Regions from separate parts of the Homo sapiens genome. Here all the other regions are linked to region 2. The links come from fine-mapping of genetic effects on gene expression. A gene starts in region 2. Each other region holds a variant in brackets. All regions are shown on one strand. Distances are from middle to middle. Region 1 overlaps GCN1 (GCN1 activator of EIF2AK4). Region 2 holds the start of COX6A1 (cytochrome c oxidase subunit 6A1). Region 3 overlaps GCN1 (GCN1 activator of EIF2AK4).

What was found. PIP is the estimated chance that this variant, and not a neighbour inherited with it, causes the effect.
Region 1: its variant is fine-mapped to the expression of COX6A1 in whole blood (TOPMed, PIP above 0.99).
Region 3: its variant is fine-mapped to the expression of COX6A1 in whole blood (INTERVAL, PIP above 0.99).

What each region holds. Positions count from the first base shown.
Region 1 is chr12:120,167,854-120,170,614 of GRCh38, reverse strand. GCN1 (GCN1 activator of EIF2AK4) reads left to right here. Exons shown (of 58, transcript NM_006836.2): 15 at 294-446; 16 at 2,315-2,407. Among named protein-coding and RNA genes, the nearest start is that of MIR4498, 14 kb to the right of the region's middle. The variant A/G (reference allele first, on the strand shown) is at 1,634.
Region 2 is chr12:120,437,016-120,439,730 of GRCh38, reverse strand. COX6A1 (cytochrome c oxidase subunit 6A1) reads right to left here and starts at 1,618. Exons shown (of 3, transcript NM_004373.4): 1 at 1,502-1,618; 2 at 1,210-1,352. The coding sequence starts at 1,604. It also overlaps the pseudogene LOC124903126. RefSeq lists enhancers at 924-1,445, 1,372-1,581.
Region 3 is chr12:120,180,811-120,183,571 of GRCh38, reverse strand. It overlaps GCN1 (GCN1 activator of EIF2AK4), which reads left to right. Exons shown (of 58, transcript NM_006836.2): 5 at 1-3. Among named protein-coding and RNA genes, the nearest start is that of GCN1, 13 kb to the left of the region's middle. The variant G/A (reference allele first, on the strand shown) is at 1,097.

The DNA.
Region 1 (2,761 bases), 270 kb after region 2:
CTGATCTCGAACTCCCAGCCTCAGGTGATCCACCCGCCTCGGCCTCCCAAAGTGCTGGGATTACAGACGTGAGCTACCGCACCTGGCCATAAGGATTATCTTTCTCCCTCTAATTTTGTGGCTGTAGAGTTTGATTTAAGTTTTGATTTCACTTCACTTCTTTTTGAGATATTTGAAAAATTAACTGAAGGGTTTTAGTCGTCTGGTTCACAGCTGGTTAGATAAATCCTTTCTCAGTCCTGTCATTTCCAAGGATCAGGATGTCCTTTAAGGTGCTTGTCCTCTCTCCACAGGTGACACGCTGTTGCAGGCCCTGGACTTACTGCCCTTGCTCATCCAGACAGTGGAGAAGGCAGCCTCCCAAAGCACTCAGGTTCCCACCATCACTGAAGGGGTTGCCGCAGCCTTGTTGCTCTTAAAGTTGTCAGTGGCTGACTCACAGGCTGGTATGAGTCCAGAGGTGTCTAGGATGGTAGAGACAGGGGCCTCTGACAAGAGTCCTTGGGAGGTGTGTCTTGATGTTCAGGATTAGCTTGGTCCTGACCACACTGGATCAGCCACAGGTTTGCTTGTCATCTGCAGGATGAACCTCATGGTTGCATGGGCAGTGGGAATGCAGTCAGGGGACTGTGTCACTGTCCTCCTTCATTCTGTTGCTCCAGTGCTACACAGGCTTGTAGATGATACCTAGATGGACCAGGGTTTAGTATTGGGACTGTTTGTTTCAGTTGGTTATACATTCATACAGTACAAAATTCAAAAGGATATAACATGAGAAGCTTCCCCTTAGCCCTGTCTTTTCCCGTAGCCGTTAAGTTTCCCTCTGTAAACGGTGTTACCAATTTTGCACTTTGGGAGGCCGAGGCAGGCGGATCACGAAGTCAAGATTTCGAGACCATTCTGGCCAACATGGTGAAACCCCGTCTTTACTAAAAGTACAAAAATTAGCTGGGTGTGGTGGCGCATGCCTGTAATCTCAGCTACTCGGGAGGCTGAGGCAGGAGAATCGCTTGAACCCAGGAGGCGTAGGTTGCAGTGAGCTGGGATTGCTCCACTGCACTCCAGCCTGGGTGGCACAGTGAGACTTTGTCTAAGAAAGAAAAAACAGTATTACCAATTTTATGTCCAGACATAGTGTGTTATGTAATTGAACATGCTGGGGAACATACGCTATATGCCATATTACTTATAATATATAATATATATACTATATATAATATATCTTCGAAATGATTCCAAATCAGTACATCAGAAAGAGCTTTCTCATTATTTTTTGTGGCTACATCGTATTTCAGGCTTTCTTTTCTTTTTTTTTTTTCTTTTTTTTTTTTTTTTTTTGAGACGGAGTTTCGCTCTGTCGCCCAGGCTGGAGTGCAGTGGCGCGATCTCGACTCACTGCAAGCTCCGCCTCCTGCCTCAGCCTTCCGAGTGGCTGGGACTACAGGCGCTACGCCGCCACGCGCGGCTAATTTTTTATATTTTTAGTAGAGACAGGGTTTCATCGTGTTAGCCAGGATGGTCTCAATCTCCTCACCTTGTGATCCACCCACCTCAGCCTCCCAATGTGCTGGGATTACAGGCGTGAGCCACTGCGCCCGGCCAGGCTTTCTTTATTTCATCTCCCAATCTCTGC[A/G]CTGGGACACACCTGAACTTAACTCCTTTGGTTAGGAATGGAGCTCAGCTCTCCTCATGTAATATCGTGTGCTCACTGTGGCCATGCAAGGCACTGGGCTACCTGGGGGAATGCTAAGATGAACATGACCTTCTTCAGCAAATTTCAGGGTGCTTACTTCACAGTAGGCGCGAGGAAATACAGAAATATATCCGTAGCTTAAGACAAAATGCGGCATTAGAGCAGTTTTGAAGGAGAGATTGCTTTTAGTTGGGGGGGTGGGTATTGGGAAGGGCTTCATGGAGGAAGCATTTGAACTGGTACCCTGAAGCCTCTGAAGGATTTCATTATCCTGAAGGGATGGCCCAGTGTGAGTCCAAACAGCCCCAGTCAGGGAAGGGCAGGGAAAGCCAGAGTCTGTAAACCTCAGGTATTCCAGCTTGGCGCCTGGGGTGGATGGGAATTCCGGATGAGAAGCAGTTCACCTAGGATCCTGTAGGCAGCAGAGAGCCACCGAAGAGTTTCGTACAGGAGGTGATACCAGAAGGACTGAGGTCAGTTCCCCAAATGGAAGAGCACTGAGCCTCCTGCTGCAGAGGAGGGTTTGTCAGCAAAGCCCACCCCAGCAGCTTCAGGATGGAGTAGATCAGCTCTGGGGGATGTGGTGAGCTGCGTCGTGGGGTAACCTTTTGTTTCTTGCAGAGGCCAAACTGAGCAGTTTCTGGCAGTTGATTGTGGATGAGAAAAAGCAGGTTTTCACTTCTGAGAAATTCCTGGTCATGGCTTCAGAGGATGGTAAGTTACTCCATGCTTAGTTGAACTCGGGATTGAGGCAAAGTCTCTTTGGAAAATCTTCAGAGAGGACCCTTTCTTGACCAACCAGTCAGGTCTGCAAAAACCTGGGCCAGAGTGATCTGGCCAACAGCTTAGCTGTTGTGGGAATAAATTCATTCCTGTAGGGAACATAAGGTTAGGGAAATGGGACTTGGGAGATGTGTGGAGACAGAGCAGTAATGGCTGTGGAGCTACGACATGAGCTGTAATTATAGCTGATTGGGTAATTGGTGCTGTCTCGGAGGTTTTCTTGTGTTAAGGCAGCTGAGAAGCTCTTGTGGAGTCTGGCAGGCTCTACTCCCCCACCAAGAGACA
Region 2 (2,715 bases):
TGTTTGGCTTCTAATTGCATTGTACAAGGATGGGAGTGCCGCTCAAAGACTCAACAAATTCAAGAGTCTAGGTTAAGTTTCTACAAGGCCAGTCCTATATGGGCTAGGTGATGTAATAATAATAATAATAATAATAACTTTTTTCATCACTTCTCGGCCTTTTGGCTAAGATCAAGTATATTATTACTATTTTTTTTTGAGACGGAGTTTCACTCCTGTTGCCCAGGCTGCAGTGCAATGGCTGGATCTTGGCTCACTGCAACCTCCTCCTCCTGGGTTCAACCTCCTAGATTCTCCCACCGCAGCCTCCCGAGTAGCTGGGATTACAGGCGCCCGCCACCACGCCCGGCTACTTTTTGTACTTTTAGTAGAGATAGTGTTTCGCCATGTTGACGAGGCTGGTCTTGAACTCCTGACCTCCGGCGATCCACCCACCTTGGCCTCCCAAAGTGCTGGGATTACAGGCGTGAGCCACCGCGCATGGCCAGTATTGAAGAATCAGAATAAGCCCTTGTTAAAGATACAGCAAACAACAGAGGACACAACATTGTAATATATCTACATCAACAACCAATGATAAAACAGTCGAGAAAAGGTATTGGTGGGGAATAGAGAAAGCTGTCAGTCTCTTCATTATGCAACTAGTAGCTGCCAGATGCCCATGTTTTGTTGTTGCTGTTTTGTTTTGTTTTGAGACCAGAGTCTCGCTCTGTTGCCCAGGCCGGAGTGCAGTGGCACGATCTCAGCTCCCTGCAAACTCCGCCTCCTAGGTTCAAGGGATTCTCCTGCTTCAGCCTCCCATGTAGCTGCTGGGTTCGCTTACGCGAACCACCTTCAGACTTTGCCACTCTAATTGGATTTCCCAAACCTCCAGGCTTTACACAACGGACACCTGTTTCAGAACTGTCTCAGAAGTAAAAAAAAAAAAAAAAAAAAAAAAAAGAACTGTCTCAGAAGGCAGGAGGTAGGATGAATCGGAGAAAAGGGAAACTGAAGAGCACTTATTGTATGACCTTGAAGAAGAGAATTGAGACGTAATCCCAAGTGTCAGCTGTCCATCCACAAAATGGAAGAAAATACATTTTCTGTTTGTGAGGATAAACAAGCTGTACACGCCTGGCACCCATGCCTTCAGAGAATGAAGAACTTGCACTAAGGCACACATAACGAAAAGAGAACGGACGCTTGAAGAGATGTACAAGGGCGTACCTTGGTCCTGATGCGGAGATGGGGGTAGGCGATGAACTCGGGTCTCTCGTGCTCTCCGTGGTGCGACTTCAGGTACACATTCAGCATGCTGACTGCCACCCCGGGGAGCGCGACGAAGAAGGTGAGAGTCTTCCACATGCGAGCTGCGGAGAAGCCACAAACGTTCAGCGCCGGTATGGGGCGGGCCCGGGTCTCACTTTCCCTCCCGCAAGGCCTCGGGCCAAGGTCACAGTCCCTCCCTGTCTCGCCCGAGTGGGGCTGAGGCTCGACCCGTCGACCCCGGCCCCAGTACCTGAGCCCTCTTCGCCATGGGCGCCACTCGACATAGGCCGCCCCAGCTGTGGGCGGGACCGACCCAGCAGCCGAGAAACCGAGGACACACCAACTACCGCCATTTTTGATCTGGACTGCCGCAGCGCCGGAAGCGGAAGTGGAAAATTGGCTCTGGGGGCGGTACTACAACCTCCAAAGGAAGTTACTATTGGGCGCCGCCCTCCCACTGGCATTAACCTGAGCACTATCATCCGGGACGACGGAGTCCTTGTCAAAATCCTCGGCATCTCGGGCAAGAGAGAGCATGCGCTCTGCACCTCCCTTCAGGCTTTACCGTTTCCTTCGTGCGCATGCGTGTGCCCTCCGGTCTCCCTACCGTCCCCACCTGGGCGAGGCGGAAGCTCAAGAGAGGTTTGTGCAGGGTGCCCTGGTACCTGGAATCGCTCCCTTCGTTGGAGTCCATGGACGGGCATCTGGAGGTTCTGATCCCAGACCGCCCTATCTAAAATTCCGTTCCCCTTCCTCGCCATCCTCCGACTGCGTTTTCTCATAGCACATAACATTGCACCTTCGTCGTTATATTATTATTTTGTCTGTCTCCCCCACTAGAATATAAAGTCTGTGATACCAAGAGTTTGGCACTGCAGCATTCTCAGAATAATCTGGGAATGGTGTAATTTGGAATCATACCTGGCACATACCAGATACTTGATATAAATTTGCTGAATGAATGGATGAATGAATGAATAGCAACAGAAAGTATAAAGAGCACTGAAATTGGTGCCAGCAGACCTGGATCCTAATCCTGACTCAACAGTCTCATCTTTTTTTTTTTTTTTTTTTTTTTTTTTTTTGAGACGGAGTTTGACTCTTGTTGCTTAGGCTGGAGTGCAGCGGTGCAATCTTGGCTCACTGCAACCTCTGCATCCCAGGTTCAAGCAGTTCTACTGCCTCAGCCTCCTGAATAGCTGGGATTACAGGCACGCACCACCATGCCTGGCTAATTTTTTTTTTTGTACTTTGGTAGAGACAGGGTTTCACCATATTGGCCAGGATGGTCTCCATCTCCTGACCTTGTGATCCGCCTTCCTCGGCCTCCCAAAGTGCTGGGATTACAGGCGTGAGCCACTGTGCCCGGCCTTTTTTTTTTTTTTTTTTTTTTTTTTCAATAGGCCCCTTTGAGAATGTAATGAGGACCAGCGTGGTGGCTCATGGCTGTAATCCCAACACTTT
Region 3 (2,761 bases), 260 kb after region 2:
CTGGTAGGTTCCCTGTGTCTCTGAAGTAGCAAGGGTCAGCTTTCTGCCAGGAGTTAGAGCATGTTTCAGCACCTTCTTGGTGCCAAGTGCTTTTCTGGGTGCTGGGTGACCAGACACTCTGAGTTGTCCCGAGGTGTGTGGCTTTGGTGGATGGCCATGAGTGCAGCATAATCACATTGTTTGGTGTATTAGACATTTTGGAGCTTCTCTGTCAGGCATGGTGCTAGGCACTAGAAATGCAGTGATGCACAACAGAAATGAGGCCCCTGATTTCATGGCATGTGTGGAAGCCGTGACAGGCCAGAGTTGGGAAGACAGCCAAAAATCAAGTAGACTAGAAAATATCATAGTGTAAATCCTCTTGGTGTTTTTCTGGCTGATCATTCCATTCCCTGTGTTTGATTTCAGTGTTGAACTGGTGAATGGAATGGATTTTTTGTCTTGGTTTTGGTTCTTAAATTCCCTCTTTCCATTCTCTACCTGCTCCTTCCATATTCTCTTCTTTTTCTTTCCCCATGTCTGCTCACCAGGTTGGGAGGTGAGCAGAGCAGACATGTGCCTGGGTAGGCTTAGTGTAGGTCATGAGGAGTGGTTTTTTAGTGTAGGTCATGAGGAGTAGTTTTTTTTTTTTTTTTTTGAGACGGAGTCTTGCTCTGTTGCTCAGGCTGGAGTGCAGTGGTGTTGGCTCACTGCAACCTCTGCCTCCTGGGTTCAAGCGTTTCTCTTGCCTCAGCCTCCCGAGTGGCTGGGATTACAGGTGCCTGCCACCACACCTGGCTAATTCTTTTGTATTTTTAGTGGAGACAGGGTTTTTCCATGGTGGCCAGGCTGGCCTTGAGCTCCTGACCTCAGATGATCCGCCTGCCTTGGCCTCCCAAAGTGTTGGGATTATAGGTGTGAGCCACTTTGCCAGGCCTTGGATCTGATTCTTGTCCATGAGACTTGGCTGAGTCACTTAACTTCTGAGCCCATTTCCTCATTTGCAAAGTGGGAAAGAAAATACTACTCACCCTGTCCACCTCAAAGAGTTGTCGCAAAGCCAGGTTTCGTTGAGGGTTGAGATGACTGTGGAAACTGGAGAGTCCCAGGCAGGTAG[G/A]TGCCAGTGATGACCGGCCTTAGGAAACACAAGTACCGCTCCATGAAGCAGCCTGCTGGTTAGATAGAGGGCTGCATCCCTGGGAGCTTATCCAGCGCACCTCTGGGGACAAACATGGAATGGCTGTCAGTATAATTGATTGATGATGGATTAGAATGCTGAAACCTTGAGGGTCAAGGATTACGTATTGTGAGCTGGGACTCTCTTGGATTTGCTTCAGGGAATGGGTGTCATTGTTACCAAAAGCCTCCTTGTAAGAAGGGGCAAGCTCATTGGCTTATCTGCACTGAGTGGTTTTTTTTGTTTTTTTTTTTTTGTTTTCTTTGAGAGACAGAGTGTAATTCTGTCACTCAGGTTGGAATGCAGTGGCGCAATCTCGGCTCACTGCAACCTCTGCCTCCCAGGCTCAAGCAATTCTCAACCCTCAGCTTCCTGAGTATAACTGGGACTATATGTGCATGCCACCACACCTGGCTAATTTTTGTATTTTTAGTAGAGATGGGGTTTCACCATGTTGGCCAGGCTAGTCTCAAACTCCTGACCTCAGGTGATCCGTCTGTCTCAGCCTCCCAAAGTGCAGGGATTACAGGTATGAGCCATTGTGCCCAGCCTACTTTTTTTTTTTTTTTTTTTTTTGAGACGGAGTTTTACTCTTGTTGCATAGGCTGGAGTGCAATGGCGCGATCTCGGCTCACCGCAACCTCTGCCTCCTGGATTCAAGCGATTCTCCTGCCTCAGCCTCCCAAGTGGCTGGGATTACAGGCATGTGCCACCATGCCCGACTAGTTTTGTATTTTTACTAGAGACGGGGTTTCTCTATGTTGGTCAGGCTGGTCTCGAACTCCTGACCTCAGGTGATCCGCCCGCCTCGGCCTCCCAAAGTGCTGGGATTACAGGCATGAGCCACTGCACCTGGTCGTGCCCAGCCTACTTTTAAAAAAATGTATTAAAAAATTTTTTTATACACACACCATGATTCTGCAGACTTCTTTTTTTTTTTTTTTTTTTTTGAGACAAAGATCTTGCTCTGTCACCCAGGCTGGAGCACAGTGGCATGATCTCAGCTCACTGCAGCCTTGACCTCCTGGGCTCAAGCGATCCTTCTGTCACAGCCTCCTGAGTAGCTGGGACTACAGGCATGCTGGTGTATGCCTGGCTGATTTTTGTATTTTTTTAGAGATGGGGTTTTCTTTTGTTGCCCGGGTTGGTCTCGAACTCCTGGGCTCAAGGGAACCACCTGCTGCGGTCTTCCAAAGTGCTGGGTTTATAGGTGTGAGTCACCACGCCCAGCCAGTAATCCTTTCTATACTATGCTATATATAGGGAGTCCTCTGTTGCTTACGGTTTTTTATTGTTACTAACAGTTCTGCAAAGAATAACCTTGTACATATGCCATTTTGTATACATGCAAATGGAATTTATCAGCATTGCTTTCCACAAGCATATCTGCTTGCTTGCTTTTTCTTTTTCTTTTTTTTTTTTTTGAGACGGAGTCTCGCTCTGTCGCCTAGGCTGGAGTGCAGTGAGGCGCAATCTCGGCTCAGTGCAAGCTCCGCCTCACGGGTTCACGCCATTCTCCTGCCTCAGCCTCCCGAGTAGCTGGGACTACAGGCGCCTGCCACCATGCCCAGCTAATTTTTTTTGTATTTTTAGTAGAGACAGGGT